4 linked regions of the Homo sapiens genome follow. Each later gene encodes a partner of the first gene's protein in a complex. Links are inferred from orthologs where the notes say so. Each region holds a gene or a part of one and is shown in the gene's direction. Other genes may lie near its edges. The genes, in order: TLE6, OOEP, KHDC3L and NLRP5.

Region 1 (7,160 bases):
CGGGCAGGGTGCCTGAGGAATGGAATTTTAAATTGTATTTCATTTTAATTAATTTTAACTTAAATAGCCACATGTGCTTACTGGATACCCTGTGAGACAACCCTGTGAGTCTTGGATAAAGCAACGTGCCCAGCTGAAAGTCTACAATCAGAGGGAGGGGAAAAAGCAAAGCCCATATTAGGAGGCTGGACCATAAATAAAACACACTTTAATTATGCAGCTGGGTGCAGTGGCTCACGCCTGTAATCCCAGCACTTTAGGAGGCCGAGATGAGTGGATCACTTGAGGTCAGGAGTTTGAGACCATCCTGGCCAACATGGTGAAACTCCATCTCTACTAAAAATACAACATTAGCTGGAGGTGGTGTGGTGGCGGGCGCCTGTCATCCAAGCTACTCAGGAGGCTGAGGTAGAAGAATCGCTTGAACCCAGGAGGCAAAGGTTGCAGTGAGCCAAGATCGTGCCACTGCACTCCAGCCTGGGCGACAGAGCAAGACTCTGTCACAAAAAAATAATAATAATAGCCAGGCGTGGTGGCTCACACCTGTAATCCCAGCACTTTGGGAGACCAAGGCAGGTGGATCACAAGATCAGGAGTTTGAGACCGATCCGGCCAATATGGTGAAACTCCATCTCTATTAAAAATACAAAAATTAGGCGGGTGTGGTGGCGGGCGCCTGTAGTCCCAGCTACTTGGGAGGCTGAGGCAGGAGAATCGCTTGAACCTGGGAGGTGGAGGATGCAGTGAGACAAGATCGCGCCACTGCACTCCAGCCTGAGGGACAGAGAGAGACTCTGTCTCAAAAAAATAAGTAATAAAAATTAAAAAATAATAATTATGGGACAGTGGAGGGTTCGTGGGTGGGAAGCTTTTCTGCAGGTCTTTCATGACGGCCCCTCCCTTTGTTCTCCATGGACCAGCTGCAAAACCCAAGTCACGTGTGCACATCACCACCTCTGGGGGCTACTTGTCCCAGCATTGAAACCCTCAGTTCCCCGCAGCGAGAGAGCACAGAACAGAAAACAGGGAAGAGTTTCTCTGGCTGGGTTTGGATCTGAAGTCAGCAGACCTATCGGGCATTTGTGTCACATGGGGAGGTCAGAGGATGGGAGGCGTCTCTGTAGGAGAATCCTGACAGCATTCTCTGCATTTAGAACATGCAGGGCTTAGAGCTATCGTGGGAGGCTCCCGCCACAGGAGCCACTGAGATTACAAGATTAGCTGCAATCCAAACCACATTCGGAAAAAAATAAAATAAGAAAGGGAGATACAGGCCCGGTGGCGGCACAGTGGCTCATGCCTGTAATCCATAGTACTTTGGGAGGTGGAGGTGGGAGGATCACTTGGGGTCAGGAGTTCAAGACCAGCCGGGGCAATGTACTGAGACTCCCCTCCCCCTCGCCCTGTGTTTAAAAAAAAAAAGAGGAAATAAAGGGAAATATAGGGAAGGGAAGGGAGGGTTGGGAGGTCTCTTCAATGAGATCCTTCCTTCCTTCCTTCCTTCCCTCCCTCCCTCCCTTCTTTTTTTTTTTTTGAGATGGAGTTTCACTCTTGTTGCCCAGGCTAGAGTGCAATGGCACGATCCTGGCTGACTGCAACCTCCACCTCCCGGGTTCAAGCGATTCTCCTGCATCAGCCTCCCAAGTAGCTGGGATTACAGGCGTCTGCCACCACACTCAGCTGACCTTTGTATTTTTAGTAGAGATGGGGTTTTGCCATGTTGGCCAGGCTGGTCATGAACTCTTTTCTTCTTTTGAGGCAGAGTACTCTGTCGCCCAGGGTGGAGTGCAATGGCGACATCTTGGCTCATTGCAACCTCTGCCTCCCAGGTTCAAGTAGCTGGGATTACAGATGTGCATCACCGTGCCCGGCTGATTTTTGTATTTTTAGTAGAGGTAGGGTTTCAGCATGTTGGCCAGGCTGGTCTGGAACTCCTGACCTCAAGTGATCTCCTGCTTCGGCCTCTCAAAGTGCTGGAATTACAGGCGTGAGCCACCACGCCTGGCCTGATGTGGTGATTTTTTTTTTTTTTTTCTGAGACAGAGTCTTGCTGTGTCACCCTGGCTGAAGTGCAGTGGCACAATCTCGACTCACTGCAACCTCCGCCTCCCAGGTTCAAGTGATTCTTCTGCCTAAGCCTCCAGAGTAGCTGGGACTACAGGTGCCTATCACCATGCCTGGCTAATTTTTGTATTTTAGTAGAGCTGGGGTTTTCTTTTTTTTTTTTTTTTTTTGAGACAGAGTCTTGTTCTGTCGCCCAGTCTGGAGTGCAGTGGCGCAATCTTGGCTCACTGCAAGCTCCGCCTCCCGGGTTCACGCCATTCTCCCGCCTCAGCCTCCTCAGTAGCTGGGATTACAGGCACCCACCGCCACGCCCGGCTAATTTTTTTGTATTTTTTATTAGAGATGGGGTTTCACCGTGTTAGCCAGGATGGTCTCGATCTCCTGACCTCGTGATCCACCCGCCTCGGCCTCCCAAAGTTCTGGGATTACAGGTGTGACCCGGCCAAGCTGGGGTTTCACCATGTTGGCCAGGCTGGTCTCGAACCCCTGACCTCAGATGATCCACCCACCTCTGCCTCCCAAAGTGCTGGGATTACAGGCGTGCACCACAGCACCTGGCCCAACGTGGTGATTTCTAAGTAGGGAGCTGAGGGAGTAAGGAGCCAGCCGGTGGCTGTCTGAGAGAGACTGTCCCTGGCAGAGTGAACTGCTAATGCCAGTACCAGGTCCTGGGCCAAACAGAAAGAAACGGGCTCTCACTCCAGAACTGCAGCTTGACCACTATATATATAATATATATACTTTATATATATTATAGCTATATATTTTTTTGAGATGGAGTCTTGCTCTGTTGCTCAGACTGGAGTGCAGTGGCACGATCATAGCTCACTCCAGACTCAACCTCCTGGGCTTACGCCATCCTCCTGCCTCAGCCTCCCCAGTAGCTGAGACTACAGGTGCATGACCACCACACTTGGCTAATTTTTAAATTTTTTGTAGAGACGCGGTGTCACTGTGTTGCCCAGGCTGGTCTCCAACTCCTGGCCTCAAGCAATCCTCCCACCTCAGCCTTCCAAAATGCTGGGATCACAGGTGTGAGCCATGGTGACTTGGCTTCATATTTTGAATAGGCCAAAACAAAACTCCGAAATCCCCTTACTCCTATCCCCACGACCCCACACAGCAGGTTTCTCTCGCTCTGCAGCAACCCACTTACCTCTCGGAAATCATCCCAGGCCTGTTCGGAGTGCACGCAGCCCCGTTAGCCTCCCTGGCTGCTCCTGTAACCAGCCCAGCTCTGCCTGAGAGGTTCCGCTATTCCCTCCGTCTGGAATACCCACCACTCTCTCCCACCCCGCGCTTGCATCCGGCAATACTGTATCAGCCTCAGGGCCTCTGCTGTCCCGCTTTCTGCTCTCAGAGCCTTTGTCACTGGGCTGGAAGAGCAGTTGGGAAAATTCGGTGATAAATGCATAGCCCGGGGCTGGGACCATCAAGGGGACCCAGTAAGTTGGCTCCAGAAAGAGGACTTGAAGCTTCGTTTGCATTGCACGTTATTTAATATTGAGGAAAATGTAATTAGCCCGTATCTAAGAATTGGGGTGACAGCGCTAAAGATTGAACCCACCCACCTCCCACTCCTCACCTCCAGCCATAAGCCACTTCCGGACAAGGCTAAAAATGCGTAAAACAATGCAACTACTCGCCACCTATCCCTGCCCAAGTTCCAGCCTCTGAGCCTCAAGCCCCACGCCCTCCTAAATATCCCCGCCCCCGCTGGGACCCCAAATTGCCTATAGCTCTGCAAGTCCGCCCTTCCCGGCAGCGGGACCGAAAGGGTAAAGCAGAGGCTCCCGGCTCGCTGAGTGACAGCATGGCCGGCGGCCGGGGAGAGCCGACCAATCAGGGAGGGCGTACGCGACCCACGTGCGTAAACGGCCTCGCTATTGGCCGGCGCCGCCAGAGGCCTGCCCCCCCCGGAGCCCGAACCCACGTGCAGCTACTGCGCCTTCATTGATCTGCTTCGCGGTCCAGGTGGCGGCTGGGTGGGGCCTGGGCGGGACGGGGCGGGGACAAGGCGGGACGAGGCGGGGCCCGATGGGTCAAATGGCCCCCGGTGGGGGAAGGAGGAGTTTCCTCTTGGCCTGAACTTGGCTGACCTCCGCAGCTTCCGCCCGGTGAGGGACGTGAGTTGCCAGGCGTGTTCTAGGGGGCTGGGGGGACTCCAGGATTCCCGGCCGGGGAAGGGGCTGCAGGGGCGTGGAGGGGCAGGACTGAGGCAAGGAAGAAGCTGGGTGCTGCAGCAGGGATGGAGGTGGAGAGAGGTCGTTTCTTCTGTCTGATGAATTCCGCCTAATGCACCTGGCTAACTCCTAGTCATCCTTCAAAACCCCTTTCTAGTGATCTCCCTGCGCTTTAGGAAATTGTCTCAAAACTAAGGTTGAGCTTTGGCGACCTTCCCTGGGCTCCCCCGTCCCTGACTGCCCCCAGCAGGGAGTGTATGTGCACTATCCACCCCAGCCTCCTAGGGTGAGGCCTGGGAGGCAAGGCTCAGTTCTTTCTGGGTCCCCGCCCCCATGAATCTGGGCAGCTGGAGGCATTGATAAGTGAGGACAGGACCTAGGGAACGCATGGGAGAACCGCAGGATTGGGTCCCTGGAGACTTACCAAACTGGGAGGTGCGGGTGGGGTAACGGGTGCCTTGCTTCCCTGGCACTGCCTTATTTTCTGTCCCTCAAGACCTGCCGTCTCCTTGTTGTTTTAGACTCTGGCTAAAGTCTTGGAGGCTACTGCCTTGAAGATGACCTCTAGGGACCAGCCCAGACCCAAGGGCCCCCCGAAAAGCACTTCGGTGAGGAGGGCATGTGGTGGGATCAGCCCTCAAGGGAAACCCGGGCCCAATGTGGTTCTGCCCCTTTTCCACCTGTGACCTGGGCTGGCCCCGCCCAGGCCTCGCAGCTGAAGACAATACTGGTCGCTGCTACACTCAAGACAGGTGCCAAGGAGCCGTGTTTTTTAAAAAAAATTAAGTGTAGGCTGGACACTGTGGCTCACAACTGTAATCTCAACATTTTTGGAGGCCGAGGCAGGAGGACCACTTGAGCCCAGGAGTTTGAAACCAGCCTGGACAACGTAGTGAGACCCTGTCTCTGTAAAAAATAAAACTAGAAGAATCAGCTGGGCCTAGTGACGTGGGCCTGTAGTTGCAGCTACTTGGGAGGCTGAGGCAGAGGGTTGGCTTGAGCCCAAGGAGTTTGAGGCTGCAGTGAACTATGATGGTGCCACTGCACTCCATCCTTGGTGACAGTGAGATCCCATCTAAAAAAAAATGTAGCATCTAATCACATATGTGATAAAAACACAGGAACACATCATGTATTTGGTTGATGTTTTACAAGCAATCCCCGCTCCCTGCACTTTGCGTCCCAGAGATGACCATTTGTAAATTTAGGCTCTCAGGGCTGAGCAGACGTTTTTTTTTGTAAAGGAGTCAGATGAGGGATATTTTGTTTTGAGACTTTATGATTTTATTATGTTTGAGACGGAGTCTCACACTCACCTCGGCTGGAATGCAATGGCGCAATCTCAGCTCACTGCAACCTCTGCCTCCCGGGTTCAAGTGATTCTCCTGCCTCGCCTCCCGAGTAGCTGGGACTACAAGCACCTGCCACCATGACCACCAAATTTTTCTTGTATTTTTAGTAGAGACTGGGTTTCACCATGTTGGCCAGGCTGGTCTCGAGCTCCTGACCTCGTGATCTGCCTGCCTCAGCCTCCCAAAGTGCTGGGGTTATAGGTGTGAGCCACCACACTTGGCCAAGAGACTTTATTTTATTGAGTCTTGCTCTTGTTGCCCAGGCTGGAGTGCAGTGGCGCGATCTCGGCTCACTGCAACCTCCACCTCCCAGGTTCAAGTGATTCTCCTGCCTCAGCCTCCCGAGTAGCTGGGATTACAGGTGCGCGCCACCACGCCCGGCTAATTTTTGTATTTTCAGTAGAGACGGGGTTTTGCTGAGTTGCCCAGGGTTGTCTCAAACTCCTGACCTCAGGTGTTCTGCTCACCTCGGCCTCCCAAAGTGCTGGGATTACAGGCATGAGCCACCTTGCCCGGACTTTTATTTTTAAAAATATTTTGTGCTTCTATTTTCATCACAAGAATGTGGTGAACATTTTAGACTTTAGGCCAAAGTGCAAAATGGAAGATGCTCTTTACTGAAATAAGAGAGGCCGGGCGCGGTGGTTCATGCCTGTCATTCCAGCACTTTAGGAGGCCGAGGCGGGTAGATCATGAGGTCAGGAGGTTGAGACCAGCCTGGCCAAGATGGTGAAACCCCATCTCTACTAAAAATACAAAAATAAGCCAGGTGTGTTGCCGGGGGCGGGCGGGGGAGGGGGGCGCGGGCGCATGTAATCCCAGCTACTCGGGAGGCTGAGGCAGGAGAATCGCTTGAACCCGGGAGGCAGAGTTTGCAGTGAGCTGAGATTGTGCCACTGCACTCCAGCCTGGGCGACAGAGCAAGACTCGGTTTCCAAAAAAAAAAAAAAAAGCAAAAACCACAATTACTTTTGCACCAACCTAATGCCTATGCCATGTTGAGGTGGAGACCGGGGGTCTTGGGTGTTGGAGCATTGTAAGTTTTATGTAACCTTGCTTTGACCTTTCCAGCCTTGTCCTGGGATCTCGAACTCTGAGAGCTCTCCGACGCTGAATTATCAGGGCATTCTAAATCGGCTCAAGCAGTTCCCCAGGTGAGAGCAATTCCAGGGGCCGGAGGTCTCACGCTGGGAAGGAGCCCCACCTGGCCTCTCTCCCGGGGGTCCTAGTGAGTGGTCTAGAGGCTGCTGGCCCAAGAGCCAGGCTCAGGAACAGGAAGCCATGCAGATACCCAGCATGGAGAACCCGGCAATACCCATCCCAGCTTTTGATTAAACAAAATTACCAACAAATATTAAAATTTTGATTTTCCTGTTCGACATGGATTTGTTGGCATTCAATTTTATTGTTGAAAAATACTGCAACGGCTGGGTATGGTGGCTCGCACCTGTAATCCCAGCACTTTGGGAGGCGGAGGCGGGCGGATTGCTTGAGGTCAGGAGATCAAGATCAGCCTGGCCAACATGGTGAAACCGCGTCTCTACAAAAAATACAAAAATCA
Region 2 (6,661 bases), on another chromosome or scaffold:
CTGGGCACGGCTCATGTCGTAATCCCAGCACTTTGGGAGACCAAGGCAGGAGGGTTGCTGGAGCCTAGGAGTTCCAGACCAGCTTGGACAATATGGTGAAACCACATCTCAAAAAACAAAAACAAAAAACTCCAGACTATGATCACACAGGCAAATATACAGAGAAGGTAAGGTGAAAGGAGAAGTATGTGTTTGACTACAATTTCAGGGCTGGGGGCAGGCCTGGAATCTAAGCCTTCTTTACCATCTCTGCAACCATCATCATTTGTTGCTGGTAGGATTGGGATTGGCTTCAAGTTTTGGTCCTGTAGATCTGATTGGCTCTGTACCACAGAAGTGGAAAGCTGGGCAAACACATGGGAGTGGGTCCTGGAAAGGGCCTAGTCATACTGGGGCCTCTGGGGTTCCACATCACTGGATGAAGGCAGCCAGGCATTACGACTTTCATAGACTCCAGGTACTTTTAATGGAGCCCCTTTCCTCCATTAAAAAAATACATAAAATTGTACGTTATCTTTATTTTATTTTTTTAGAGATGGGGTCTCTGTCACCCAGGCTAGAGTGCAGTGGTGCAATCATAGCTCACTGCAGCCTCGACCTTGTGCACTCAGGCTATCCTTCCTCAGCTTCCCGAGTAGCTGGGACTACAGGCGCATGTCACCACAACCAGCTAATTATTTTATTTTTTGTAGAGACAGGTCCTCTCTATGTTGCCCAGGGTGGTCTCAAACTCCTAAGCTCAAGTGATCCTCCCGCCTCAGCCTCCCAGTGATGGGATTACAGGCATGTATATATATTTTAAAAATATATTTAAAAAATATATTTTTGGCAAAGCGCAGTGGCTCAAGGCTATAATCTCAGCACTTTGGGAGGCCGAGGTGGGTAGATCACCTGAGGTCAGGAGTTCGAGACCAGCCTGGACAACATGGTGAAACTCCACCTCTAGTAAAAATACAAAATTAGCTGGGTGTGGTGGTGCATGCCTGTAATCCCAGCTACTTGGGAGGCCTAGGCAGGAGAATCACTTGAACCCAGGAGGCGGAGGTTGCAGTGAGCCAAGATTCGCCATTGCACTCCAGCCTGAGCAAAAGAGCAAAACTCCGTCTCTAAATAAATAAATAAATAAAAAATAATTGCATACTTAAAATCTTCTGGCCCTGGCCAGTTGCAGTGGCTCATGCCTGTAGTCCAACATTTTGGGAGGCCAAGGCAGGAGGACTGCTTGAGCCCAGGAGTTCGAGACCAGCCTGGGCAACATAGGGAGACCTCTGTCTCTACAGTGGGTGTGATGGCATGCACCTGCCTCAGCTACCCAGTGAGCTGAGATCGTGCCACTGCACTCTAGCCTGGGTGACAGAGTGAGACCCTGTCTCAAAAAAGAAAACAAAAGAAGAGAAGGAGCCCTCTTCCTTTCTCCGCCATCGTGGTGTGTTCTTGACTCCGCTGCTCGCCATGTCTTCTCACAAGACTTTCAGGATTAAGCGATTCCTGGCCAAGAAACAAAAGCAAAATCGTCCCATTCCCCAGTGGATTCGGATGAAAACTGGAAATAAAATCAGGTACAACTCCAAAAGGAGACATTGGAGAAGAACCAAGCTGGGTCTATAAGGAATTGCACATGAGATGGCACACATATTTATGCTGTCTGAAGGTCACGATCATGTTACCATATCAAGCTGAAAATGTCACCACTATCTGGAGATTTCGACGTGTTTTCCTCTCTGAATCTGTTATGAACACGTTGGTTGGCTGGATTCAGTAATAAATATGTGAGGCCTTTCGTTTTTAAAAAAAAAAAAAAAAAAAAGGAAAGAAAAAGAGAAGGTGAGAAAGAATCTTCCGGCCCTTAAGAGCTCTGTGAAACGTCAGTTTGCTCTGGCCGCTTTCCCATTTTGATCTCGGGCTGGCGTCAGGCCCACTGCAGGATCCCTGGCACCCCAAGAAGCTAACCCAGATGGCGGGAAAAGTGTTCTATTAACCCAGCCAAGTTGGCTCAGTGCATCTCTCCACCTCAGTCTCTGGTGTTGGCTTCCATGCACTCGGGAAAACTGCCCACTTGTCCCCAGGCTTCCAAGGAGGCCCACGTGACTGACTGAGCTCCCAAAAGGTTTTCTTGCACAATAGCCCTCCTGTTTTGGCAGGCTCAGGTGCAAAGGCCTATCGGTCTCCCCAAAGCTGAGAGATGCGAAACCAACACTTGCGAATCAGATTCTGGCCTCTCACTGAGCAGGGAGGTTCTTTCCTCAGGGGAGAGCAGTAATCCCACAGGATCATTTCTTCCTTGAGGAAGAAATAACTGAACTAGCCACTGTTGGGCTACACCTGAGACTGAGTTGTATCTGAGACTAACTGCTTCACGGTGTCCAGCATGCTGGGGATTTATGTGGGGTTTATGGCAGAAGATCCCCACAAGATAATGGGGTGCCATCTTTTCCACACCAGGAAGTGGAATTTGAGAGAAGTTAACTTATTCCTGTGTGGCTCAGATCACCACAGTCCCCCTAAAGAAGCTGTTAAAATTCTATACATGCTGGGTAAAATATTCTTTGTCTACAGTAATGTAAGTGCGTCTCATGATTAGATTAAGGCTTTAATTTTTTTAGGTTTATTTTTAGGGTCTCGCTCTGTCACCCAAGCAGGAGTGCAGTGGTGTGATCATGGCTCACTGCACCCTCAAACCCCTTGGCTTAAGCGATCTGCTAGCCTCCACCTCCTAAAGGGCTGGGATTACAGGCACGAGCCACAATATCTGGCCTTGATTAGGTTAAGGGGTTTTTGTTTGTTTTTTGAGATGGAGTCTCACTCTGTAGCCCAGGCTGGAGTGTAGTGGTGCCATTTTGGCTCACTGCAACCTCTGCCTCTGGGGTTCAAGCAATTCTCCTGCCTCATCCTTTCGAGTAGCTGGGATTGCAGGTAACCACCACACACTGGCCAAATTTTTTTATTTTTATTTTTTTTTATTTTTGAGACAGAGTTTTGCTCTTGTTGTCCAGGCTGGAGTGCAATGGTGTGATCTTGGCTCACGACAACCTCCGCCTCCTGGGTTCAAGTGATTCTCCTGCCTCAGCCTCCTGAGTAGCTGGGATTATAGGCATGCACCACCATGTCCGGCTAATCTTTTGTATTTTTAGTACAGACTAGGTTTCTCCATGTTGGTCAGGCTGGTCTCGAACTCCCGACCTCAGGTGATCTGCCCGCCTCAGCCTCCCAAAGTGCTGGGATTACAGGCATGAGTGACCGTGTCTGGCCCACACCCATCTAATTTTTGTATTTTTAGTAGAGACCGGTTTTCTCCATGTTGGTCAGGCTGGTCTCAAACTCCTGACCTCAAGTGATCCTCCTGCCTTGGCCTCCCGAAGTGCTGGGATTATAGGCATGAGCCACCTTGCCTGGCCAGGTTAAGGTTTTAAATGTTTATTGCATCAGAGCCATAGCTAAATCTTGTTTTCCTGTAAGTATGCCCTGCACACCTGATAGTCAAGTTTTCTCAGAAACCATTGAGGGTGAGAGGGGGTGGGATCAGGGGCAGAAAACTGGAACCTCCACACAGTCCTAGATGATCATGTGGAGTCTGGAACATGCTTTTCACTATTTTGAGTTTTTTCTTCTATGCTGGCTGTGGTGGCTCACGCCTGTAATCCCAGCACTTTGGGAGGCCAAAGTGAGAGGACTGCTTGAGCCTAGGAGTTCAAAACCAGCCTGGCAACATAGTGGGACCCTGTCTCTACAAACAGACAAACAACAACAACAACAAAAAGAGCTGGAAAATAGCTGGGTGTGGTGGCAGGTGCCTGTGGTCTCAGCTACTCAGGAGGCTGAGATGGGAGGGTCGCTTAGGCCTGGGAGGTCGAGGCTTCAGTGAACCGAGATCGTGCCACTGCATTCCAGCCTAGGCAAGAGAGTGAGACCTATCTCAGAAAAATAGAAGTTTTAAAACAAACACATAGTTAATTGTAAGAACGAAATAGTATATTCAGCAGATACTATTCTGAAACAACCAAACAATATTTCTACAAATATAGTAGAAAATGTGTAAGGACATGCATGGGGATGATATATACACACTAGCTTCAGGATGATTTCCTCTGGAGAAGGAAAGGAAAGATGCTTGAGTAATATCTGTTTTAAAAACAGAGGAGTGAGGCAAATGTGGGGAAATGTCAACATCTGTTAAACTCGGGGAGGGTACATGGCCGTGTTATATTACTTTTTTGGATGTGTGAAACCTTTCATAATCCAAATTTTTAATTAAAATTACAAACATTGGGAAAAAATGTCCATCGATAATGGTTGTCTTAGGATACTGGAAATAAAGGAAAATTGTCTAACTTGCTACATGTTCTATAAGACCACCTCTGACGTGTTGTTTAAAACATGACACACTTGCTTGAATGATTTAAAAATGGTAACCATCCGGAGAGTCAGAAGATAACAACAGGGAGCAGAACAGAGAAAACTGACACATTGAACAAGCCTGCCCTGGGTCCGATATACCTATCTTTGGGAGGCAACGATGAAACCTTAACCTAGCCAGCAAAGGTGATTCCCAGTCTATTAATAGAGTCGTCAATTCAAACTCACACTGTTAATCAGCTATAAGGTGGGCAGAGGACTTTCAGGCTAAGCATACCTTACGAGCAGAGATGACGAAGGAGAGCATTGGAGACCCAACAGGAGGCCAAATGAATACTAGTTCAAGGTCAAAGAGGCAATCCCGGCGATTGAAGCAGCGCAGGAAGTGTCCAATGGTGCCGCTATGCCGGGGCGTCGCTTGCACCCGCTCACCCCGACGCGGTGCGAGGCGCCGCCGGAAGGGGCGGAGCGGGTCGAATATGGTAAAAGAGAGCCCGAGCTTCGCGCCTGGGTCTGGAAGAGGTCTTGCGAAAGCCGCCTCGAGCGCGCTCCGCGGCTGCTGGTCCCAGTATGGTCGATGATGCTGGTGCCGCTGAGTCCCAGCGGGGCAAACAGACTCCGGCCCACTCCCTGGAGCAGCTGCGTAGGTTACCACTTCCGCCGCCACAGATTCGCATCCGGCCCTGGTGGTTTCCGGTGCAGGAACTGAGAGACCCTTTGGTGTTCTACCTAGAGGCATGGCTGGCAGACGAGCTCTTTGGTGAGCGACCCCAGGTGTGCTAGTGGGCTGTCCACCTCCAGTCTGAGAGAGGCTTGGCAGAGCAGCTCTCTACAGTCTCTTTCCCAGATTCGCAAGCCAGGAGTGTTGCAGTGATGCCCACCTTCCAGTTCTTCCCTTCCCTGGCCAACATTCCCTTCAAATCCAGCTTCTAACCTGCCACCGTGCAGCCCCTCAGAGTTTTTCCTTACTTGTTTAGGCCCAGACCGAGCCATAATTCCAGAAATGGAGTGGACGAGCCAGGCCCTGCTGACAGTGGACATAGTGGACTCAGGGAACCTAGTCGAAATCACCGTTTTCGGGCGGCCCCGTGTACAGAATCGGGTGAAGAGCATGCTCCTGTGCCTGGCATGGTTTCACCGAGAACATCGTGCCCGAGGTGAGGGTCTTTGAGAACCTGCATGTGGAGGAAGCCACGAGTGACCATACTGGCCTTGCTCGGTTTCCTTCCATCCTCCCTTAACCTTCTCAAAATTTCTTGGTTTCCAGACCCCAGGGAGCTAGCTGTACGAAGTTTGTTGGGAGGGGATCCTGGGGTAGGACCTTGGGAAAGTCAGCAGAGATCTGATAGATTCAGACCCATCACTGCCCAAGTCAGCCTCACCTGGGTTACAGCACTATCGCAGATCTTTCTCTCCTCCCCAACTCCCAGTCACGGAGTAGTTCGAAACAGCAAACACTTGTCCCTGTCCATGGTTAGTATCAACTGCTTCTCTTCCAGCTGAGAAGATGAAACACCTTGAGAAGAACTTGAAGGCCCATGCATCAGACCCCCACTCTCCCCAGGATCCTGTTGCTTAAGACAACATAGTTACTGTTGGGAACATCTTAACTTTCTAACTTTTGCTGCTAAAGTTGAAGAAAAGCAAGTATAGCATTCTTAAATCCCCGTATTCCTTTTTCCTGTGTCTTGATGGATTGTGGTTTATTTTGTTGCAAGAGTGAGTTTGAACTATTCTAATAAAGAAATGGCTATTTTGCCAAAAGCATTAAGATCTTCACACACTTATAATAAAGCAAATTTATAAAAGATTGACTCCCACTCATGTTTTGATATGAAGGGTGGGCAGGTGATAGTTTTGTAGGTTTTTGTTTTTGTTTTTTTTTCCTGAATTCCCATCATTTTGAAACTCCTAATCCTTTTATGATTTTCTGGTCAGAGAGAGGCCCTCACCCACAGGGAGCGGATATGCAGGGGCAGATAACCTCACAAATGGTGATCTGTTTTGTTTTTACATAATTGGTCCTCAAACTTTAAAGCTTGTAAGAAATCACCTTGGGAGCTTGTTAAAACACAATTTCCTTGGCTCCTTCTCCAGAGAATTCTGATTCAGTACTTTTGGGGTGGGGCTTAAAATTTCATTTCTGATGAGCTCACACATACTACTAAAGCAGCTTATCTGAGGCTCTCACTTTGAAGCTGGTAATTGATCCCCCGAAGAGCACCAGCTGTGCGTTTTCCTGGAGTGGGGCATCCATTGGGCAGAGGATGACGTTGCAAGAAGCAAGCCTGGGCGGTCAGCGTTCATT
Region 3 (6,274 bases), on another chromosome or scaffold:
ATGTTAAAGATCACTTCTGCTGTAGGTCTGGGTTGCAGCAAGTGTCTTAGAGGACATCTGGCCATTGCATGGGCTCTGCTTGCCACCCATCGGTACTTGCATTTCCAAATAATGACTTTTTAGAAAGGTGGAACACTTAAAAGCATATGCATTGCTTTTAAAAGCATATGCATTGCTTTTATCCAAAATTAATGTCAATGTTTATCATATTATAATGTTAGCAACAAGGCTGGTGAGTATATAGGTTGGTTCGACCTCGGAGGGATGCCATTTGGCAATACCTTATCAATTGGAAATTTACAGATCCTTTGACTCAGCAATTCTACATTTGAAATTTCATCCTATAGTTATACTCCCCCTTGTAAGAAATGACATGTAGAAGGATACTGATTTCAATAGCATTACTAGCACAAGTAAAAGATACCATACAAGGTAAATATTCACGAAGATTGGGAAAAAATACATATTAAAGAAATAAGGCTGGGTTCCGTGGCTCATGCCTGTAATCCCAACACTTTGGGAGGCTAAGGTGGGAGAATCGCTTGAGCCCAGGAGTTCGAGACCATCCTGGGCATATAGTGGCCATGTTGCAGGCACTGAGACATGATGAAACCCCATCTCTATTAAAAATACAAAAATTAGCTGGGCTTGGTGGCGGATGCCTGTAATCCCAGCTACTCGGGAGGCTGAGGCATGAGAATCGCTTGAACCCAGGAGGTGGAGGTTGCAGTGAGCCGATATTGCACCACTGCACTCCGGCCTGTTGACACAGCGAGACTCCATCTCAAAAAAAAAAAGACAAAAACAAAAACAAAAAAAGACCAGCCTGTCCTAAAAAAAAAAATTAAAACAAATTAGTTGTGATGGCACATGCCCGTGATCTTAGCTACTTAGGAAGCTGAGGTGGGAAGATCACTTGAACCCAGAAGTTGGAGGCTGCTGTGAACTATGATGGGTCACTGCACGCTAGCCTGGGTGACGGAGTGAGATGCTGTCTCATCAAAAATAAATAAATAAATAAATCCATTATCAATATCTAGAAAAACAAAACTTTGTCAAGAAAAGAAATCATAGTATATACAACTATGAATAGTTTACAAAGTCGTAATAGTGCGAACACTGAATATTGATCTAACAAAATCATATCTCTGTTTTAAGATGATCTAGGTCTGATGCACATAGTTAAGTCCCAGCTTACCTGGGTTGGAAGAGGGTGAAAGATAGTGGTAGATATATAAATCCTAGCCTCCCAAAGTACTAGGATTACAGGCTTGAGCCACCGTGCCCCGTCGTTTTTTGTTTTTTTTTTTTTTGTTTGTGTGTGTGTGTTTTCTTTTTTCTTTTTCTTTTTCTTTTTTTGTTGAGAGGGAGTCTCGCACCGTCGCCCAGGATGGAGTGCAATGGCGCAGTCTGGGCACATCGCAACCTCCGCCTCCCAGGTTCAAGCGATTCTCCTGCCTCAGCCTGTCGAGTACCTGGGATTACAGGCGCCAGCCACCACGGCCAGCTAATTTTTGTGTTGTTAGTAGAAAGGGATTTCGCCATGTTAGTCAGGCTGCTCTCAAACTCCTGACCTCGTGATCCGCCTACCTCGGCCTCCCAAAGTGCTGGGATTATAGGTGTGAGCCACTGTGCCCGGACTTCTACGTCGTTTTTTGACATTTTTTATTTCTTTTTTTTTTTTTTCCGAGACAGAGTCTTGCTCTGTCCTCCAGGCTGGAGTGCAATGGCACGATCTTGGCTCACTGCAACCTCTGCCTCCCGGGTTCAAGCAATTCTCCTGCCTCAGTCTCCCGAGTAGCTGGGATTACAGGCCCCTGCCACCACATCTCGCTAATTTTTGTATTTTTAGTAGAGATGGGGTTTCACCATGTTGGCCAGGCTGGTCTTGAACTCCTAACCTCAGGTGATACGCCCGCCTTGGCCTCCCAAATTGCTGGGATTACATGTGTAAGCCACCACGCCCGGCCTGTTTTTTGACTTTTTTTTTTTTTTTTGAGACGGAGTCTCACTCTGTCACCCAGGCTGGCGAGCAGTGGCTCAATCTCAGCTCACTGCAACCTCCACCCTCTAAGTTCAAGCAATTCTCCCGCCTCAGTCTCCCAAGTAGCTGGGATTACAGGCACCTGCCACTGCGCCCGGCTAATTTTTGTATTTTTAGTACAGATGGGGTTTCACCATGTTGGCCAGGCTGGTCTTTAACTCCTGACCTTGTGATCCACCCGTCTCAGCCTCCCAAAGTGCTGGGATTACAGGCATGAGCCACCATGCCCGCCCTGTTTTTTGAGTTTTTAATAAAAGTCATTGTGACTGGTGTATGATGGTATATCGGTGTGATTTTAATTTGCATTCCTCTTCTGATTAGTGATGCGGAGCATTTTTTCATGTGTTTGTAGGCTGCCTGTATTTCTTCTTTTGAGAAATATCTCTTCATGCTCCTTGCCCAGTTTTGTTTGTTTGTTTTGTGGAGACAGTCTCGCTCTATCCAGCAGGCTGCAGTTCAGTAGCCTGATATCGGCTCATTGCAACCTCCGCCTCAGGAGTTCAAGCGATTCTCATGCCTCAGCTTCCTGAGTAGCTGGGATTACAGGTGCCCGTCACCATGCCCGGCTAATTTTTGTATTTTTAATAGAGACAGGATTTCGCCATGTTGGCCAGGCTGGTCTAGAACTCCTGGCGTGAGCCACTGTGCCCGGCTTTGCCCCATTTTTAATGGTTTTTTTTTTTCTTGTTGTTTTGCAAAGTACTTTAATCATCTCAATTAGCAAGTAAGAATTTCCCAACTACTAAATCATTCCTACATATGAAATATATTCAGCCGGTTGGGCATGGTCTGAATATATACATTCGGCCTATTAATGTGGCAAACCTGAAGTTCTCTTCAGTGTTTCAATACTGAATAAAAATAAATTATAAATTATAATTTGTCTTATAGCAACACATCTAAAACAGTTATTATTATTATTATTTTTGAGACAGGGTCTCACTCTGTCACCCAGGGGGGAGTGCAGAGGCACCATCACTGCTTACTGTAGACTCAGCCTCTCTGGGATCAAGGGATTGTCCCACCTCAGCCTTCCGAGTAGCTGGGACTACAGGTGCGTGCCACCTAGTCCAGCTAATTTTTGTATTTTTTGTAGGGATAGGGTTTTATCATTTTGCCCAGGCCAGAAGGATTGCTTGAGACCAGCTTGGGCAACATAACGAACCCTTGTCAGAAAGGGAAGGGGAAAAGAAAGGAAAGGAAAAGGGAAAGGAAAAAAGAAAGGAAGGAAGAAAGAGACAAATATAATTGTGTTATTTAGAGAACAGAGGCATCACTGGGCATGGTGTCGGGAGCTTGTAGTCCCAGCTACTGGGGGAGCTGAGGAGGGAGGATCTCTTGAGCCCAGGAGATGGAGGCTGCAGTGAGCTATAATCACACCACCGCCCCCTAGCCTGGGTGACACAGAGAGACCCTGCAGCAAATTTTAAAAATTAAAAATAAAAAAGAGAATAGAGATGTCAAAAATTTTCAAGGAATCTCATCTTGTGTCCAAACCACGAGAACTATCTGTGGTTAGGTGTGTTCATGGCTGCATTAATTAAAAGCGTGCTATAGTCCCACTACTGGGGAGGCTAAAGAGGGAGGATTTTTTTGAGCCCTGGAGTTCGAAGCCAACCTGGGCAACATAGCCAGGCCCCATAACTTTTTTTCTATCCATTTTTTTTTTTTACTATGCAAATCTCACTACACAGACCCTATAACAGAAAAAAAAAAGAAAAAGAAAGAAAAAAGGCGGGCGCTTATTCTGCTCTGTACTCAGCAGTCTCAGGCAAGTGACAGAATAATCTGAAAACCTGGTCCAGAGGGAGGAAACGTAGTGGCCAGGGATCAGAAGCGCGTGAGGGACCTATGAAGTATTCATTCTGCAAGTATTAGTTCTTTCCTCTGGGAGAGATACTGGGCTTGCCCACGCCTTCCTGAGTCCATGGTTAAGACTCCCGCTGGGCACCAGCGGATTCCTGGTGCCCAGAGCCCGGTTCCTCCTACCGGGTGCGCTGGGAAAAGGGCTGCTCCTGACAGAAGGGACACTCTAAGAGCAGCCCAGGAACCGGTGCACTTGGGCGGCCTCGGAAGAAGCCGGGGCTCCTGGAGGCGGAGGCGAGGCCTGGGACCCAATAAGAAGGGCGCGGCTAGAGAGGAGGGGCTGGCCAAAAGCCCTTGAAATAAGGCCCAGGCAGAACCGCGGTTCTAGTCTCCCAGCTCCAGCTCGGCCTTTGGGTTTGCTGTGGTGTCCTTGTCTCCTGCAGGACCGGCCGCAGCATGGACGCTCCCAGGCGGTTTCCGACGCTCGTGCAACTGATGCAGCCAAAAGCAATGCCAGTGGAGGTGCTCGGTCACCTCCCTAAGCGGTTCTCCTGGTTCCACTCTGAGTTCCTGAAGAATCCGAAGGTAGTTCGCCTTGAGGTTTGGCTGGTGGAAAAGATCTTCGGTGAGTGGACCAAGAAGGGGCAGCCCCCATGCGGCTTCTTTCTGCCACCCATACCCACAGCCCACATATTCTGGCTGCGTTCCAGGGCGATCCTCACCAGTAGCCAATGCCCTCTGGCTGTCTCCTCCTTCCACCTTCCCCTCCCAAGACCCCCGGGAGCCACCGGTCCCTCACAGCCTCTCTGCTACCCGCGCAGGCCGGGGCGGAGAACGCATCCCGCACGTCCAGGGTATGTCCCAAATCTTGATTCACGTGAATCGATTGGACCCTAACGGCGAGGCTGAGATCTTGGTATTTGGGAGGCCTTCTTACCAGGAGGACACAATCAAGATGATCATGAACCTGGCTGACTATCACCGCCAGCTCCAGGCGAAAGGTACGGGGCTGGGAATAGGGCTACCTGGAGCAAACCCTGGCTCCGTAGGAGTGATCCTGGGGTTTCCTGGCTGCTGGGGCGGCAGTCTCGCCCTCCCAGTCGGCCTGCGGTTGGTGGGTGGGGGAGGGGGCGGTTCTCGCTGCCACGGATCCAGAAGGCCAAATTGAACCCTCGTTCTGGGATTTCTGGCTCCTACTCCCGCAGGCCGCTTGGGTGACTGTCCTTTTTTGGAGAGGATATAGAGACACAGCTGTGGCCTCTGCACACTGCTCTTCTTCCAGGCTCAGGAAAGGCCCTCGCCCAGGATGTCGCCACTCAGAAGGCCGAGACCCAGCGGTCTTCAATAGAAGTCCGGGAGGCCGGGACGCAGCGTTCGGTGGAGGTCCGGGAGGCCGGGACCCAGCGTTCGGTGGAAGTCCAGGAGGTCGGGACACAGGGTTCTCCGGTGGAGGTGCAGGAGGCCGGGACCCAGCAGTCTCTCCAGGCTGCCAACAAGTCGGGGACCCAGCGATCCCCCGAAGCTGCCAGCAAGGCAGTGACCCAGCGGTTTCGCGAGGATGCCCGGGACCCAGTTACTAGATTATGAAGGCATCTCAGGCCCTGGAGCCAGAGCCAGTCAGGGGTTAAAGTGAAAGCCCGTATTTCCGCCCAGAAGCTGGGGTTGGGGAGAGGATGTGGATTTTTTGTTTTACCCTTTCTGTTGCATGGTTGCAAACACAAACTTGAGTTCTAATAAAGAATTGCAAAGTGGAAGCCCGCCCCCCGCCTCCCCCCCGCCTCACTTAAGTCCAGGAAGCTGGGGTGGCGAGGAAGGATGATGTGGATTGTTTTTGTTTTACACCTTCTGTTGAATGGTTGCCAACACAAACTTGAGTTCTAATAAATAATTGCATTTCCCTAACGTCTGTATTTTGGAAGGTAGAGGGGAGGGAAAGGCGCATTCCTCCAACAGCCCAGTTCTGCCCTGCGCAGCCCTCTACCTCGAGGCAGGTGGGGCCTGTGGTTCCTAGCCGCCCGAGGTGGCCATCTTCCCCGGCTGTGGTCCGGTGTGCCCCTTGTACTCCTTAACCGCGCGCATCTGGCTTTAACAGGTGAGAAGCCTCTCTGGCCCACTAGGAAATCTCTCCAAGCCCGCTGTCGTTCTACTCAAGGTGACTTGGGATGAGAAAACTGGGTCGCTTGGGGGCCAGCTGGATTTGGAAGGCCCTGGGTGTATTGCTACTCTGTCACAGAACACTTTCTCAGCTGGGGAAAATGACATCGGGGAAGGGGGAAACGAAGAGACCCGAGCTGCACTCTTGGGCTGCACTGTTGCAGTCTTCAGGTCTTGCTTGGGTCACCCACCTTCCACGAAGGTCGTGGACACCAGCAAGATACAGGCATCGGCTACTCTTTCCTCAGTTACTATGGCAGCGAGAAGCCC
Region 4 (7,026 bases), about 53 Mb from region 1:
TAACCCACCTGTTTTTAATCGACTCCTAAATGGTCTTCAGTCTTGCTGTTTTACACACGGCTGGGTCTAATTGCATTTAAAACGGATAAAGATTGTTAAAGTACCGTCCAAAAAGATGGCACCCATTTACACTTCACTAATGTAGGAGCACCTTTTCCTTCACCCATCACAAAGCAGCGTCCAGTCACACATTGTGGACATTGTCAGCCTCACATGTCAAACGTAGTACATCATTTTGGCTATTTACCTTATCAGTAATAACTTTTTTTTAAAGTACATTTAAAAGTCATGCCGTTTCTTTTTTTTCTTTTTTCTTTTTTTTTTTTTTTTTTTTTTTTTTTTGAGACAGTGTCTTACTCTATGCCCAGGCTGGAGTGCAATGGTGAGATCTCAGCTCACTGCAACCTCTGCCTCCCGGGTTCAAGCGATTCTCCTGCCTCAGCCTCCCGAGTAGCTGGGACTACAGGCACACGCCACGATGCCCGGCTAATTTGTGTATTTTTAGTAGAGATGCGGTTTCACCATGTTGACCAGGCTAGTCTCGAACTCCTGACCTCAGGTGATCCACCTGCCTCAGGATCCCAAAGTGCTGGGATTACAAAAGTCATATGCAGTTTTTTAACTCTTCAAAATCCTTCTAATAGGCTGGGCACAGTGGCTCATGCCTATAATCCCAGCACTTGGGGAGGCCGAGGCAGGTGGATCATTTGAGGTCAGGGGTTTGAGACCAGCCTGACTAACATGGCGAAATACCCTGTCTACTAAAAATACAAAAATTAGGCCGGGCACGGTGGCTCATGCCTGTAATCCCAGCACTTTGGGAGGCCCAGGCGGGTGGATCATGAGGTCAGGAGATCGAGACCATCCTGGCTAACACGGTGAAACCCCGTCTCTACTAAAAATACAAAAATTAGCCGGGCATGGTGGTGGGCGCCTGTAGTCCCAGCTACTCGGGAGGCTGAGGCAGGAGAATGGCAGGAACCCGGGAGGCGGAGCTGGCAGTGAGCCGAGATGGTGCCACTGCATTCCAGCCTGGGCGACGGAGCAAGACTCTGTCTCAAAAAGAAAAAAAGCTGGGCATGGTTGAGGGTGTCTGTAATCCCAGCTACTGGGGAGGTTGAGGCAGGAGAATCACTTGAACCCAGGAGACGGAGATTGCAGTGAACTGAGATCATATCACTGTACTCTAGCCTGGGCAACAAAAGCAAAACTCCATCTCAAAGAAAAAAAAAATTCCGCTGAGCTGTTGATCATTATCATGGATTGGAAGAGCTGTTTACGTAATGCATTCTTTGTCATGTCTCAAATTTATTTGCAGCAGTTTTTTCAGCGGGACTTTAAAGATTTGTTTGTTTTTCTGGAGTGAGGAGGGTACTGTATTGAATTAATCTGTCATCTTGTCTCTTTTATACCATTCGATTGAGACCTTCTATTCCATTTGCTCATTATTTGGGGGCTAAATGTAAAGTAGGAATTCATGAACATAAATATTTCAAAATTTAGCCCCCGGAAATGGTGACCTTCTATCGTAGATGTTAAAGTGCAGCCTAGACATCAACAGAGTGAATATCATTCTTCTTAGAATTTTCTTGTCTAGTTTTGGCTTTTCATAGAAACATTGAGTTTCTTGTCCTGATAACAATATCAGCAGTACTTCTTGGATGATATTATACTGATGGAGGATGACTGATGTGTTGGGAATCTGCCTCTGCCTCACCACATTGAGCCTTTTATCTAGCAGCCGCATTTTAAAGCTCTCAAAACAGATAGCCACTTTTCTAAATTATGCATGTTTTACCTCTATAGTTGCTGTTCATTTGATCTCACGTTTAACTGGTTATTAGATTTTGTGTGGGATTTCATCGTTACATTTGTTACCAGCCCAATTTAATAACTACATATAATTTAAAATTGAGTAATTTATTAGGCATACATACCTACATACAGATGTTAATTTTCACCTTTTTCCACTTTTATACCTCCTCTTTATCTGATTGCTTTCCTATCAAATATAAATTAGGTAAATATAAATAATAGTGGAATATCAGATATAAAGAATAGGGAGAGAGTACAAAACTGAACGGAAGTGCTGACAGCTAACATTCTTTTTTTACTTTTTAGTTTTGGGGGTACATGTGAAGGTTTGTTACGTAGGTAAACTTGTGTCATGGGGGTTTGTTATACATACTATTTCCTCACCCAGGTTATTAAGCCCAGTACCCAGTCGTTATTTCTTTCTGCTTCTCACCCTCCTCCCACCCTCCACCCTCAGGTAGACCCCAGTATCTGTGGTTCCCCTCTTTGTGTCCATGTGTTCTTATTTAGCTCCCATTTATAAGTGAGAACATGTGGTAGTTGGTTTTCTGTTCCTGTCTTAGTTTGCTTAGGATGATGGCCCCCAGTTCCATCCATGTTCCCACAAAAGACATGATCTCATTCTTTTTTATGGCTGCATAGTATTCCATGGTGTACGTGTACCACATTTTCTTTATCCAGTCTGTCCTTGATGGGCATTTAGGTTGACTCCATGTCTTTTCTATTGTAAACAGTGCCACGGTGAACATTTGCATGCATGTATCTTTATGGGAGAATGCTTTATATTCCTCTTAGTGTATATACCCAGTGATGGGATGGCTGGGTCCAACGCTACTGCTTTTAGCTCTTTGAGGAATCTCCACCCTGCTTTCCACAATAGCTGAACTGATTTACACTCCCACCAACAGTGTATAAGCTTTCCATTTTTTCCTGCAACCTCAGCAGCGTCGGTTTTTTGACTTTTTAATAATGACACGTAACATTCTTATGGGATTCTCTGTAGGGCTTGTGTCAAATCCAGCCCATTGCCCAGTTTTGTAAATAAAGATTTATTGGAACACAGCTTTTCTCCTTTGTTGACAAATTGTCTACAGCTACTTTCCCAGTGCAGGAGCAGCTAAGCACGGGTGGCAGAGAGCAAATGGCCCCAAAGCCAAAAATGCCTGGCTCCTTCTGGGAGATTTGCTGACCCCTGATCTTTGTCAAAAATAGATACATTTGCTGCAGTTTTTCCTTTATTTTAGTTGACACATAACTGTACATATTTATGGAGACTTTTTTTTTTTGAAATGAATTTTCGCTCTTGTTGCCCAGGCTGGAGTGCAATGGTGCAATCTTGGCTCACTGCAACCTCTGCCTCCCAGGTTCAAGCGATTCTCCTGCCTCAGCCTCTTGAGTAGCTGGGATTACGGGCACCTGCCACCATGCCTGGCTAATTTTGTATTTTTAGTAGAGATGGGGTTTCTCCATGTTGGTCAGGCTGGTCTTGAACTCCCGACCTCAGGTGATCCACCCACCTCGGCCTCCCAAAGTGCTGGGATTACAGGTGTGAGCCACTGCGCCCGGCCCGAGTGATATTTTGATACCTGTATACAATGTATCATGATCAAATCAGGGGACTTAGCATATTCATCACCCCAAACATTTGTGTTGTGAACACTCTGTCCTCCCTTCTAGCTTTTTGAGAGTGGACAATAAGTTATAGTTCACCATATTCACCTGCAGTGCTGCAGAACACCTGCACCCATTTCTCCCTTCTACCTGTAATCTTAGCACCCATGAGCCATACTCTCCCCCTCCTCTCCCCCTCCTCTCCCCCTCCTCTCCCCCTCCTCTCCCCCTCCTCTCCCCCTCCTCTCCCCCTCCTCTCCCCCCTCTCTCCCCCCTCTCTCCCCCCTCCCTCCCCCTCTCCCCCCTCCCCTCCTCTCCCCCCTCCCCTCCCCCCTCCCCTCCCCCCCTCCCCTCCCCCTCCCCCTCCCCCTCCCCCTCCTCTCCCCTCCTCTCCTCCCCCCTCCTCCTCTCAACCTCCCCTCTCCCCTCTCCCTCCTCTCCCCTATCCTCTAATACCCACAATTACATCCCCTACTTCCATAGTCCCATTTGCTCAATTTAACTCCCACATATGAGTAAAATACATTCAGTATTTAGTTTCCCATGCCTGGTTTATTTTGCTTCACACAATGAACTACAGGCTGTAGCTCACATGAAGAGCTACAGGCTCATCTGTGTTGTCACAAATGGCAGGATTTTTTGAAGGCTGAAACATGTTCCCTTGTGTGTGTATACCACGTTTTCTTGATTCATTTGTTGATGGACAGTTAGGTAGATTACATATCTTAGCTATCGTGAATAGTGGGGTGGTAAACATGAGAGTGCAGACATACCTTTGATATACTTCGGGTAAATCACCAGATCGCTGGATCATAGGGTATTAATCTATTTTCAGTTCTTTGAGACACTGCTACACTGTTTTCCATAATGGCTGTGCTAATTTACATTTCCACTGACAGTGGAAAGGAGTTTCTTTCTCTGCATCCTTGCCAGCATTTATTTTTCGTCTTTTTTGATAGTAGCCATTCCAACTAGAGGGAAATGCAAATCAAAACCACAGTGAGATTGCGATGATGAGTAATGTTGAATCTTTTTTCGTATCTGTTGGTCATTTGGATGTCTTTTGAGAAATGTCTGTTCAGGTTTTTACCCACTTCTTAAATGGATTACTTGGAGTTTTGCTATACAGTTGTTTGAGTTCCTCATATATTCTGGGTATTAGTTCCTTGCCAGATCATTATTTTGCAAATATTTTCTCCCATTCTGCGGGGTTTTTTTGGGAGGGGGGACAGAGTCTTGTTCTGTCACCAGGCTGGAGTGCAGTGGCACCATCTCAGCTCACTGTAACCTCCAACTCCCTAGTTCAAGCGATTCTCCTGCCTCAGCCTCCCCAGTAGCTGGGATTTCAGGCACGTGCCACCACACCCAGCTAATTTTTGTATTTCTAGTAGAGATGGAGTTTCACCATGTTGGCCAGGATGGTCTCGATCTCCTGACCTCATGATCCACCTGCCTTGGCCTCCCAAAGTGCTGGAGTTACAGGCCTGAGCCACTGTGCCCAGCCAGGTTGTCTCTTTACTCTTGGACTATTTCCTTTGCTGTACAGAAGCTCTTTAGTTGGATGTACTCCTATTGGTCTATTTTTGCTTTTGTTGCCTGTCCTTTTGAAGTCTTAGCCGCAAAATATTTGCCTTGACTTGTATTCAGAAGAGCTTTCCCTATGTTTTCTTCTGGTAGTTTTATTATTTCAAGTCTTATGTTTAAGTACTTTATCTTGAGTTGATTTTTATATATGGTGAGAGACAGGGGTCTAGTTTAATTCTGCATATGGTTATCCCGTTTTCGCAGTACCACCTAGTGAACACAGTGTACTTTCCCTAATCTTGGTGCCTTTGAAAATGAGTTGGATGAGTTCATGCTCTTTGTAGGGACATGGATGAAGCTGGAAACTATCATTCTGAGCAAACTATCGCAAGGACAGAAAACCAAACACCACATGTTCTCACTCATAGGTGGGAATTGAACAATGAGAACACTTGGACACAGGGTGGGGAACATCACACACTGGGGCCTGTCCTAGGGTGTGGGGCTGGGGGAGGGATAGCATTAGGAGAAATACCTAATGCAAACGATGAGTTCATGGGTGCAGCAAACCAACATGGCACATGTATACCTGTGTAACAAACCTGCACGTTGTGCACATGTACCCTAGAACTTAAAGTATTAAAAAAACTTAAATATTAAAATATTCTAACAAGTCCTGAAAAATACATTAAAAAAGAAAGAGTTGGCTATAAATATATGGATTTCTGAATTATCTATTCTGTTGGTCTATGTCTGTTTTCATGACAGTGCCATGCTGTTTTGGTTACTATAGCTTTGTGAAGTCAGGTAATATGCCTCCAGCTTTCTTTTTGCTCAAAATTGTTTGGGCTACTTGGGATCTTTTGTGGTTCTATACAAATATTAGGATTGTTTTTCTATTTCTGTGAAGAATGTCGTTGGTGTTTTGATAGGGATTGCATTGAATCTGTAGATTGTTTTGGGTAGGATGGCCATTTTAACAACATTCTTCTAATCAGTGAACGTTAGATGTCTCCATTTTTATCTATCCTCTTCAATTTTTTTCAGTATTCTGTGGGTTTTACTATAGATATTTCTTACCTCCTTAGTTAAATTTATTTCTAGGTACATTTTTGTAGCTATTATAAAGGACATTGCTTTCTTTTTCAGCTAGTTCATTATTGGTGTTTAGAAATGCTACTGTTTTTATGTTGATTTTTGCATCATACTGAGTTCATTTATTATATAAAAACTTGCATCATACTGAAAAATTTATCCAAAAATCAACATTTTTGTATGTTGATTCTGCAACTTTACTGAATTCCTTTATCAGTTCTCTGTCTTTTGGTGGGGTCTGTAGGCTTTTCTAAATGAAAGATTATATTGCCTGCAAACATGAACAATCTACTTCTTCTCCAATTTTGATGCCCTTTGTTTCTTTTTCTTCCCTAATTGCTCTGGCTAAGACTTCCAGTACTGTGTTAAATAGGAGTGGCGGAAGTGGGCACCCTGTGTGCCAGTTCTTAGGGAAAAGGCTTTCTTCTTTTCCACATTCAGTATAATGCTAGCTGTGGGTTTGTCATACATGGCCTTTATTGTTCTGAGTTATGTTTCTTCTGCGTCTTATCATAAAGGGATGTTGAATTTTTTTTTCTTTGTTCATCTTTTCTTTTATACTTTAAGTTCTAGGGTACATGTGCACAACGTGCAGGTTTGTTACATATGTATACATGTGCCCTGTTGGTGTGCTGCACCCATTAACTCATCATTTACATTAGGTATATCTCCTAATGCTCCCTCCCCCACAACAGTCCCCGGTGTGTGACGTTCCCCTTCCTGTGTTCAAGTGTTCTCATTGTTCAGTTCCCACCTATGAGTGAGAACATGTGGTGTTTGGTTTTTCGTCCTTGCGATAGTTTGCTCAGAATGATGATTTCCAGCTTCATCCATGTCCCTACAAGGACATGAAATCATCCTTGTTTATGGCTGCATAGTATTCCATGGTGTATATGTACCACATTTTCTTAATCCAGTCTATCACTGATGGACATTTGGGTTGGTTCCAAGTCTTTGCTATTGTGAATAGTGCCACAATAA

The links.
Region 2: the proteins of TLE6 (region 1) and OOEP are in contact, whole or in part, in a cryo-EM structure (PDB 8H94), measured with the Mus musculus proteins. The link is inferred for Homo sapiens from one-to-one orthologs. Residues at the interface, in NP_444484.1 of Mus musculus: Trp256, Ser258, Phe304, Thr305, Arg306, His307, Val318, Asn320, Val322, Asn323, Glu332, Ser333, Asn354, Ser355, Arg356, Leu373, Ala374, Ala375, Pro376, Ser377, Leu378; in NP_080756.1 of Mus musculus: Arg32, Pro33, Trp34, Trp35, Pro37, Gln39, Glu40, Glu67, Trp70, Met71, Gln73, Gln94, Pro95.
Region 3: TLE6 (region 1) and KHDC3L share a complex: the UniProt entries of both Homo sapiens proteins name them as parts of the subcortical maternal complex.
Region 4: the proteins of TLE6 (region 1) and NLRP5 are in contact, whole or in part, in a cryo-EM structure (PDB 8H94), measured with the Mus musculus proteins. The link is inferred for Homo sapiens from one-to-one orthologs. Residues at the interface, in NP_444484.1 of Mus musculus: Pro147, Gln148, Pro149, Val150, Cys158, Gln159, Phe161, Leu162, Ile163, Gly165, Leu166, Trp167, Leu169, Phe170, Ser173, Arg174, Gln175, Lys176, Asn177, Ala247, Asp248, Lys249, Phe250, Lys252, Pro253, Ser255, Trp256, Leu261, Glu262, Cys265; in NP_035990.1 of Mus musculus: Gln185, Phe188, His283, Arg307, Glu326, Lys327, Lys329, Ser330, Ser334, Pro335, Leu336, Met444, Ala447, Glu448, Trp451, Tyr465, Tyr507, Tyr508, Glu511, Glu515, Asn517, Phe520, Phe522, Leu540, Met543, Lys544, Leu547, Val571, Lys574, Leu575.

What each region holds. Positions count from the first base shown.
Region 1 is NC_000019.10:2,973,430-2,980,589, forward strand, and holds the start of TLE6 (transducin-like enhancer protein 6), read left to right. Parts: upstream 1-4,134; 5' UTR 4,135-4,181; exon of another isoform or gene 4,182-4,190; intron 4,191-4,768; 5' UTR 4,769-4,804; coding exon 4,805-4,855; intron 4,856-6,670; coding exon 6,671-6,753; exon of another isoform or gene 6,754-6,978; intron 6,979-7,160. UniProt on the Homo sapiens protein: Component of the subcortical maternal complex (SCMC), a multiprotein complex that plays a key role in early embryonic development.
Region 2 is NC_000006.12:73,368,055-73,374,715, reverse strand, and holds OOEP (oocyte-expressed protein homolog), read left to right. Parts: upstream 1-4,818; 5' UTR 4,819-4,923; coding exon 4,924-5,113; intron 5,114-5,330; coding exon 5,331-5,510; intron 5,511-5,852; coding exon 5,853-5,932; 3' UTR 5,933-6,161; downstream 6,162-6,661. UniProt on the Homo sapiens protein: Component of the subcortical maternal complex (SCMC), a multiprotein complex that plays a key role in early embryonic development.
Region 3 is NC_000006.12:73,358,424-73,364,697, forward strand, and holds KHDC3L (KH domain-containing protein 3), read left to right. Parts: upstream 1-4,234; 5' UTR 4,235-4,306; coding exon 4,307-4,475; intron 4,476-4,671; coding exon 4,672-4,851; intron 4,852-5,132; coding exon 5,133-5,437; 3' UTR 5,438-5,748; downstream 5,749-6,274. UniProt on the Homo sapiens protein: Component of the subcortical maternal complex (SCMC), a multiprotein complex that plays a key role in early embryonic development.
Region 4 is NC_000019.10:55,989,766-55,996,791, forward strand, and holds part of NLRP5 (NACHT, LRR and PYD domains-containing protein 5), read left to right. Parts: intron 1-7,026. UniProt on the Homo sapiens protein: Component of the subcortical maternal complex (SCMC), a multiprotein complex that plays a key role in early embryonic development.